Homo sapiens: one gene and its partner. The protein of the gene in region 1 interacts with the protein of each later gene in a pairwise test. Each region holds a gene or a part of one and is shown on either strand. Other genes may lie near its edges. The genes, in order: ARMCX4 and KLK6.

Region 1 (4,429 bases):
AGAGGAACAGAAAATGGTAGAACCATGTGCTTGGTGGAAGAGAGGATGATTAGCAGCCTCTCCATTCCTCTTATTTCATCTTCTCTCCACCTTCCCCAATGCCCAATAATTTTCTTCCAAGATACTTCTATACACATTTCTATACACCAAATGAACAGTGGAAAGGATGGTAGGAGGTCTGACGATAAATGGGAGCAACCAAGAAGTCCCAGACTTTGATTTCTACTGGACCTACTCTGGTCACCTGTCTACAGGGCCCCACCCTCATACCAACCTGTAATGATCCGAGGCAGTTCCCTCCTCTCCTCTTGCTTCTCTTGGCAGTACACCCTAAAGTAGATACATAAATTCATGAGATCTCTGGACCTAGAGACAGACAGACAGATGGAGGGACAGATGGGAGTAGAGAGTTTGTTCTTGATGGGACAGACATATTATTAGCAAACTACCTTTCTACGTTTCTCAGTCCACCCCACTCCCTAAGACACTGTCACACTCTTTTCCCTGTACCAGAATTAAGGTGAGGGTATGGAGTAAATGACAGGGATGGTGGGAAAGGTGGCTGGAAAAGGAGAGACTGAGGATCCTCATCCTCCAGACTGGTCACTGGTCCTTACTGGATGCACACTGGTCTCCACCAACCCACTCTAGAGGTCTACCCAGGCAGTCCCCACACTCTTACCAGTCTATACTGATCAGGAGCAATCTCCTCTTTGTTTCTTTGCTTCCAGTGATCTTAAGCCCTGCAGCAGACATGCAGGCAGATCTATGGACAAGTAAACAAACAGTAGGTAATGGAAACCGAGTCCCTGGTAGAACAGACAAGCAACCTGATCCCTGACCCCAATGTCTGCCTCGCCAGAGCCCAGGTTCTATATACTAATGTGTACCATCTCATGGTCCCCCCATCAAGTCTTCCCCCAGTCATACTCCAGCCCACCCTTACCCCCATATTCCTATCATTTCCTGCACTGAAATCCACAGGAGGCATGGCAGCACTGTGGCAATCCAGCACTCCACTGAGACCCTCTTAAATCTCACCCACCTCCTATGCCCACCCTCTCTTGTCATCCCCAGAGACTACCCCCACTTCACACCAACCTCCATGCTTCTAGATTGATCTCCTCCTCTTTCCCTTGCTTCCAATGGTAAACAGCCCTACTGCAGGCCTATGGGAAGACCTTGGAACAGATGGAGAAAAAGAAGAGAGTGGATGTTAAGTACTTGTGACACTTACCATCTAAGACATAGGTCCCTGTACCTGCCTGCCTGGATTTAGAGACCCATTTGCTGGCAGAAAAAAAAAAAAAAAAAAGCCTGGGGCTTCCCCAGCACTGAAATGGGAAGGATGGAAAAGGGAGGCAGGAAAAGTAAAAGGCAACAGACAGAGGCACGTTATTTTATTTTATTTTATTTTATTTTATTTATTTTATTTTTTATTTATTTTGAGACAGAGCCCCACTCTGTCACCCAGGCTGGATTGCAGTGGCAAGATCATGGCTCACCACAGTCTCGACCTCCCAGGCTCAAAAGATCCTCCCACCTCAGCCTCCCAAGTAGCAGGAACTACAGACTGTGCCACCATACCCAGCTAATTTTTAAATTATATGTAGAGATGAAGTCTCGCTATGTTGCCCAGGCTGGTCTTGAACACCTGAGCTCAAGCAATCCTCTTGCTTGGGTCTCTCAAAGTGCTGGGATTACAGGCAAGAGCTACTAGGCCCAACAAGGCAAATTATTTTAAAACCACCTGTAGGGTTCTAGGGATTTCCCCAAAAGCCCACCATTTCCTTCACCAAGATGGTCAGGTAGGTAGAGGGATCTGGAAAACTGAAGGATGGCAGGAGAGATGGGAGACCCCAGATCCCATACTCTAGAACCACAACCTACTGCTGTCCACGTCCCTTTCAACCTATCTCTAGGAGTCTCCAGCAGAAGAGAAAAGCTATAGGGGAAGCCTTTTGCTTCTACAAAATCACTATCCTTCCCCACCAAAGGCTATCTAAAAAATAATAATAATAATAATATTCTTTAATATAATTTATCTTTTTCTCAATATTATCTGAAATGCAAATAAAAGCATCTGTAGAAAAGTTTGCTGTCTTCATTGGTCTTCAACATACAATTTAAAAGTCCTAAGCTTGGTAAGTAAAATGCAGTTTAGGGAAAGTCCCCAAGCTAGCCCCACCCCACATCCCATTCAGACAGCCGCACCTAAGTTCCTGTCATAGAATTCATATGGAACTCCAATGGTTTAGATAGTGTCTGTACTCACACTAACCTCCTTGATCCAGTGCAGTTTTCTCCTCTCCTTCCTTTCTCCTCGCCGCAAACAGTGCTACACCGAACTACTGTCCGACAGACAGGAGAGAGTAAAACCACTTAGTGTTGGTCTAGAGCCCAGGACATAGATCCCAATACTCGCCTTTCCGGGTTCAGGAACCTGGTTATCAAACGTCCCTCCCCACAGTCTGAGACACCACCCTTACCAACCCCACCGTCCAGTCTCTAAGGCCCACCATTTTCTCTGCAAACGCCACCGTGGCGCATCCCTTCCACTAAATTGAGCAGGAAGCGAGCGGACATGTGTGGCCAGTGATTAGAGCGATGGGCATCTCAATCTCTGTATTTCCCTCTGGCAGAGACAATCTCCCCACAAATCAAAGCCCACGGTTCGCCTGCACAGATGTAGGCGGGGGCAAGGGGGCTAGGGAGAATCAGAGGCAAAGGCTCCTCGAACTTGAGGCAGCATAGACCACCGCCCCCTCAAGCCCCGTAACCGCTGCCGGGGTCAGTGAGCTTCTGCCGGCCTGGCCAGGGCGCGCGGGCCCCAGGGCCCTTACCTGCTCCGCTTTCCCCGGGCCCGATGCCAGCCCGCCGAGCGCAGGGCAGCGGGGAGCTGGTAGCCAGATGCGAGTGACGACTGCAACGAAGGCTGCGTAGCTCTGCAGCTCCGGGTCACGTGAGGACCGCGCGTCACCGCCGAGCTCGCCCTCCTCCCCAGCACCCCCTACCACCCACCAAGGGCCGGCGGCCAGTCACCAGGAACTCCCCCCTCCTCCACTCCGCACGCACAGACATCCCCGTTCTCTGGTCTGTGCTCGGTGCCCCAGTGCGCACGCGTTGTCACTCATCTCCGTCCTCTCCAATCTGAGGGCCCACAAGTGGCATCATCGCCTTGTGGTTGGAGTTTACCCATCTTCAGTTACAGGGGAGGGTCTGCATCCCCCTACCCACTCCCGGCCCTTGGCTGTGGCCTTTTATGTTTCTTCTTTGAGTAATCACTTATTTCTCTCTTAGACTATAAGACCAGCACTCCCCACCCGCCCCCTACACGACCTGCCCTCTCTAAGTACAATGCCTGCACCAAATGGGCTGTGGAAGGGGGTATCAGGAAGGAAAGCAGAAGGTGCAAGTAGAGCTTTAATTTTCTTTTTCGTGTTCCTTTTTTTTCTTTTAATATGACATTCTTTTCTAATATTGTAATCAGAAAATACAGTATAGCCATTTTCATTTGACACAAAAAATATTCAGGGTGTAAAAATAACAAAAGACTCATTCTTTTGTTTACATTATTTTGTGCCACATTTTAAAATGTCTTCTGTTACTGCAAACTATTTTACAGCTTTCAAAATTGACTAGTAATTCTTGACATTTTAAATACAAAATTGTCCTAAACAAAACCAGCACGTATTCAATATGATCTATAAGTTAATCTTTGGAAAGACATTTCGTTTTCTAATATTGACAATTTTACACAGGTGATTTGTAACTTTTGAAGTTCTGGCTGAACTCAGCATCTTTTTTCAGGTGTCTAAGACCTTCTTCAGAGAAGACTTCTAGAGGATATATTTAAGACCCAACTCCTGATGAGCCTAGTGCTTTACTAGTGACTTACCAAATTAACCTGCTTTACTAGTGACTTCCCAAATTAACCTGTTTTCCATTCAAGGGGCTTTATTTGGATTTTACATAAGCATGTAATCAGATCAGCCTCACCACACCCATGGAACAACCAACTGCTAGAGCTTGGATGGAAAGGAGACTTAACAGGTGGAATTTTCATCCGTCGTAACACTTGAGATCTCGCCGGTGTCTGCCATTCATGTACTACATACTACCCTAGCAGTGGCGAGTGTTCAATATTTTCCAGTGGAGATGGTGGTGAGGGTCTGTGGATGACTGTGAATCACTGCAACACACCTGATGTCCGTGTCATTATTTTTTTCCCTCACAAGTGGAAGGGCAATGTACAGGATCCCAAGCAATTGCCAAGAAAAAGAAGTTTTTTCATGTCCTGCCTTGTGTTACAACTTCACTGCACCTCCCATACAAGCCCCTCAGAATAATCCCAAAACTCAGGGACCAAATATGCAGAAGTTAGTCCCCACGCATCCACCTGTCCCCGCTGAGGAGTCATACTCCAAAT
Region 2 (3,810 bases), on another chromosome or scaffold:
TGGTCTCCACATACCAGCGGACCCCCAGAATCACCCTGCAGGAAAGAGGGAGAAAGTCAGATACAGATAGAAACCCAGAGACTGTGTGTGTGTGTGTGTGTGTGTGTGTGTGTGTGTGTGTGTGTGTGACAGAGAGAGAGGTAGAAAGGGACAGAGGTACTTACTGAAAGATGGAGAGAAAGACTCAGGGACAGAGAGACAGAGAGAGAGACAGTAAGACACACAAAGGCACAGAGAGAGAATGGTAGAGAGAGAATAAAGGAGACTCAAAGACACAGAGATAGGAATGCCAAGATGCAGAGGAACATAGAGAGCAAGAAAGAGAAACAATTTAAGAATGGAGACTGAGAGGTGTGGAGAGAGGCAGAGGTGTAGAGACCGATGGAGAGAGAGGAGGAGGAAGAGGAGAAGGAGGAGGAAGAGGAGAAGGAGAGGAGGAAGAGGAGGAGGAAGAGGAGGAGGAGGAAGAGGAGGAGGAAGAGGAGAAGGAGGAGGAGGAGGAAGAGGAGGAGGAAGAGGAGAAGGAGGAGGAGGAAGAGGAGGAGGAAGAGGAGAAGAAGGAGGAAGAAGAGGAGGAGGAAGAGGAGGAGGAGGAAGAGGAGGAGGAGGAAGAGGAGGAGGAGAAGGAAGAGGAGGAGAAGAGGAGGAAAAGGAGGAGGAGGAAAAGGGGGAGGAGGAAGAGGAGGAGGAGGAAGAGGAGAACGAGGAGGAGGAAGAGGAGAAGGAAGAGGAGAAGGAGGAGGAGGAGGGGGAAGACGAGGAGGAGGAGGGAGAGGAGGGGGGAGGAGGAGGGGGAGGAGGAGGGGGAGGAGGATGGGGAGGGGGAGGAGGATGGAGAGGGGGAGGAGGATGGGGAGGGGGAGGAGGGGGAGGAGGAGACGATAAGACCCAGGTGGGAGAGGTAGGGAGGGCCCAGGGAGAGATATGCCTGGCACTATTCTGTCCAGGGACACCTCTCCACCTCGTGTCTTGAGGACAGTCTCGCCCACCTGCCCTTTCTTTGCGTCCAACTTGCTATGTATCGCTTTCCCTGTCTCTGTCCCTGTTTCTGCCTGTGTCTCCGTTTCTGCCTGTGTCTCCCCCTTGGTTGGTCTCTGCACATCCCTCAGTGCATTAGTCATTCTGGCATAAAGAGGAGAGCCTGGATGGATGACAATGGAGGAAACCCAAGTTAAAGTATTCGGGAGGGAGTCCCCTTTCCCCAGCTAGTGTCTCCCTCCTCCAGAGCCTGGTCGTTTCTGAGCAGGACTCGTGGGGGCTCTGTTTGAGGAAGGACAGTCCCCTCACACCATCTGCTTCCTTACTACTTCTCTTTGGTTCTTTTTGTTTTTAGACAGAGTCTGGCTCTGTCCCCAGGCTGGAGTGCAGTGGCGTGATCTCAGCTCACTGCAGCCTCTGCCTCCTGGGTTTAAGCAATTCTCCAGCCTCAGCCTCCCGAGTAGCTGGGACTACAGGTGTGTCCCACCATGCTTGCGTAATTTTTGTTTTTTGGTTTTTTTTTGAGACGGAATCTTGCTCTGTTGCCAGGCTGGAGTGCAGTAGCATGATCTCGACTCACTGCAACAACCTCCGCCTCCAGGTTCAAGTGATTCTCCTGCCACAGCCTCCTGAGTAGCTGGGACTACAGGCGCCTGCCACCACGCCCAGCTAATTTTTGTATTTTTAGTAGAGATGAGGTTTCCCCATATCGGCCAGGCTGGTCTCAATCTCTTGACCTGGTTATTCACCCACCTCGGCCTCCCAAGGTGCTGGGATTACAGGCATGAGCCACTGTGCCCATCCTAATTTTTGTATTTTTAGTAGAGATAGGGTTTCACCATGTTGATCAGGCTGGTCTCGAACTCCTGACCCCAGGTGATCCTCCTGCTTCGGCCTCCCAAGGTGCTGGGATTACAGGCATGAGCCACTGTGCCCATCCTAATTTTTGTATTTTTAGTAGAGATAGGGTTTCACCATGTTGATCAGGCTGGTCTCGAACTCCTGACCCCAGGTGATCCTCCTGCTTCGGCCTCCCAAGGTGCTGGGATTACAGGCATGAGCCACTGTGCCCATCCTAATTTTTGTATTTTTAGTAGAGATAGGGTTTCACCATGTTGATCAGGCTGGTCTCGAACTCCTGACCCTAGGTGATCCTCCTGCTTCGGCCTCCCAAAGTGCCGGGATTACAGGCATGAGCCGCTGCTCCTGGCCTCTCTGGTTCTTGATCCCGCGGCCTCCATCCTTGTCTCTGCACTTCCTGTCTCTGCTGGCTGTGTCTTTATATCTCTGCATATCCCTGACTGTGTCTCTGTGTGTTGAACTAAGTCTCTTCTTTTCAAGGCTTGGGTTCTCCCTCAGCCTGTCTCTATCTGTCTCTGTAAAGCTCTCTTTTGGCCTGTGTCTCTCTCTTCCTGTGTCTGGCCATGTTTTTGTGACTTCGTCCTGTCCCTGGCTGTGTAAGTGGCAGATCCGGGTCACCTCACCTGGCAGGAATCCTTCCCGTACTTCTCATCCCCAGCACACAACATGTTCTGGGTGATCTGGCCAGGGTAGGCATGCTCACACTCCTCACGGGACACCAGGTGGATGTATGCACACTGGATGGTGTCAGGGAAATCACCTGTTAGGGGAGAGATGGGCCAGACTCAGCCCAGGCCTTGCACTCCCCTCATCCTCCCCAGTCACCCCCCAACCCCTATAAGTCCTCCATCCTCTATTGGTCCCTCTTTTCTATTGGCACCCCTCTTCCTGTTTGTCTCTCATTCTTACATCTCATTACCATCGTCCCTGCCTCCTAATTGGTCCCTCTTTCTATCATTCTTCCCCCCCATTGGCTGTCTTCCTCATTAATAGTCTCTTCTCCAGGAGTCCTCATTTCCTATTGGTTTTCCTTTTCTCTTAGGTCCCTCCTCCACTTTTCTCTCTTCCACTGGTCCCACCTTCTTCAGTAGTTTCAGTTGACCTGGAGGACTCTTCCTCTGTTACGCCCTCCTCTACTGTACCCCTCCTGATCAGTAGTCCATTCTTCATTGGACACTTCCTGCCCATTGATTCATCTTGATTGGTCACTCTGTGACCATTGGTCTTTTCCTAACTGGCCATGCCCTCTCCCATTGGTTCTTCCTTTCTATTGGTTCTTCATCCAATGGTCCACCTCCATCATTGGTCCTTTTCTAACTGTCCCCACCCTCCCTCATGGATCCTCCCTTTCTATTGGCCCTTCCTCCAATGGTCTACCTTCCTCATTGGTCCTTTCCTAACTGGCCCTGCCCTCCCTCATTGGCTCTCTCTTCCTATTGGTCTGCTTCCCTCCTTGGTCCTTTTCTAACTGGCCTCACCATCCCCCACTGGCTCTCCCTTCCTATTAGCCCTTCATCCAATGGTCCACCTCCCTCATTGGTCCTTTTCTAACTTGCCGCATCCTCCCCCATTGTCTCTGCCTTCCCACTGGCCCTTCATCCAATGGTTCACCTTTCTTATTGGCCCTTCACACACAGGCCCACCTTCATGGATCCTGCTGATCTATTGGACCTGTTTTTTCCTCTAGTGACTCCTCTGGACCATTGATCCTTTCCCCTTAGTCCCTCTTCCATCAGCTATACCCCCATTCACTGTCTCAATTCACATCCTTCAGTTGGCTTTTGTGCTTTATTGGTTTCTCTTCTTCCATCAGTTCCTTCTCCATTATTCCTTCCTGCTGTTCAATGAATCCTGATCAGTCCCCTTTGACCTTTGACATCCTTCCTGATTAGCATCTCCCCACTGACCTTCCCTCTTTATTGAACCTTCATCTTATGTTCCATCTCTCCCATGCTATTCACCCATTGGTCT

What was found.
Region 2: the proteins of ARMCX4 (region 1) and KLK6 interact in binary tests that used the Homo sapiens proteins (3 or more experiments, as listed by UniProt).

Annotation. Positions count from the first base shown.
Region 1 is NC_000023.11:101,483,945-101,488,373, reverse strand, and holds the start of ARMCX4 (armadillo repeat-containing X-linked protein 4), read right to left. Parts: upstream 2,919-4,429; 5' UTR 2,844-2,918; intron 2,352-2,843; 5' UTR 2,282-2,351; exon of another isoform or gene 2,276-2,281; intron 1,182-2,275; 5' UTR 1,102-1,181; intron 767-1,101; 5' UTR 683-766; intron 367-682; exon of another isoform or gene 331-366; 5' UTR 275-330; intron 1-274.
Region 2 is NC_000019.10:50,959,282-50,963,091, forward strand, and holds part of KLK6 (kallikrein-6 isoform A preproprotein), read right to left. Parts: intron 2,600-3,810; coding exon 2,463-2,599; intron 36-2,462; coding exon 1-35. UniProt on the Homo sapiens protein: Serine protease which exhibits a preference for Arg over Lys in the substrate P1 position and for Ser or Pro in the P2 position.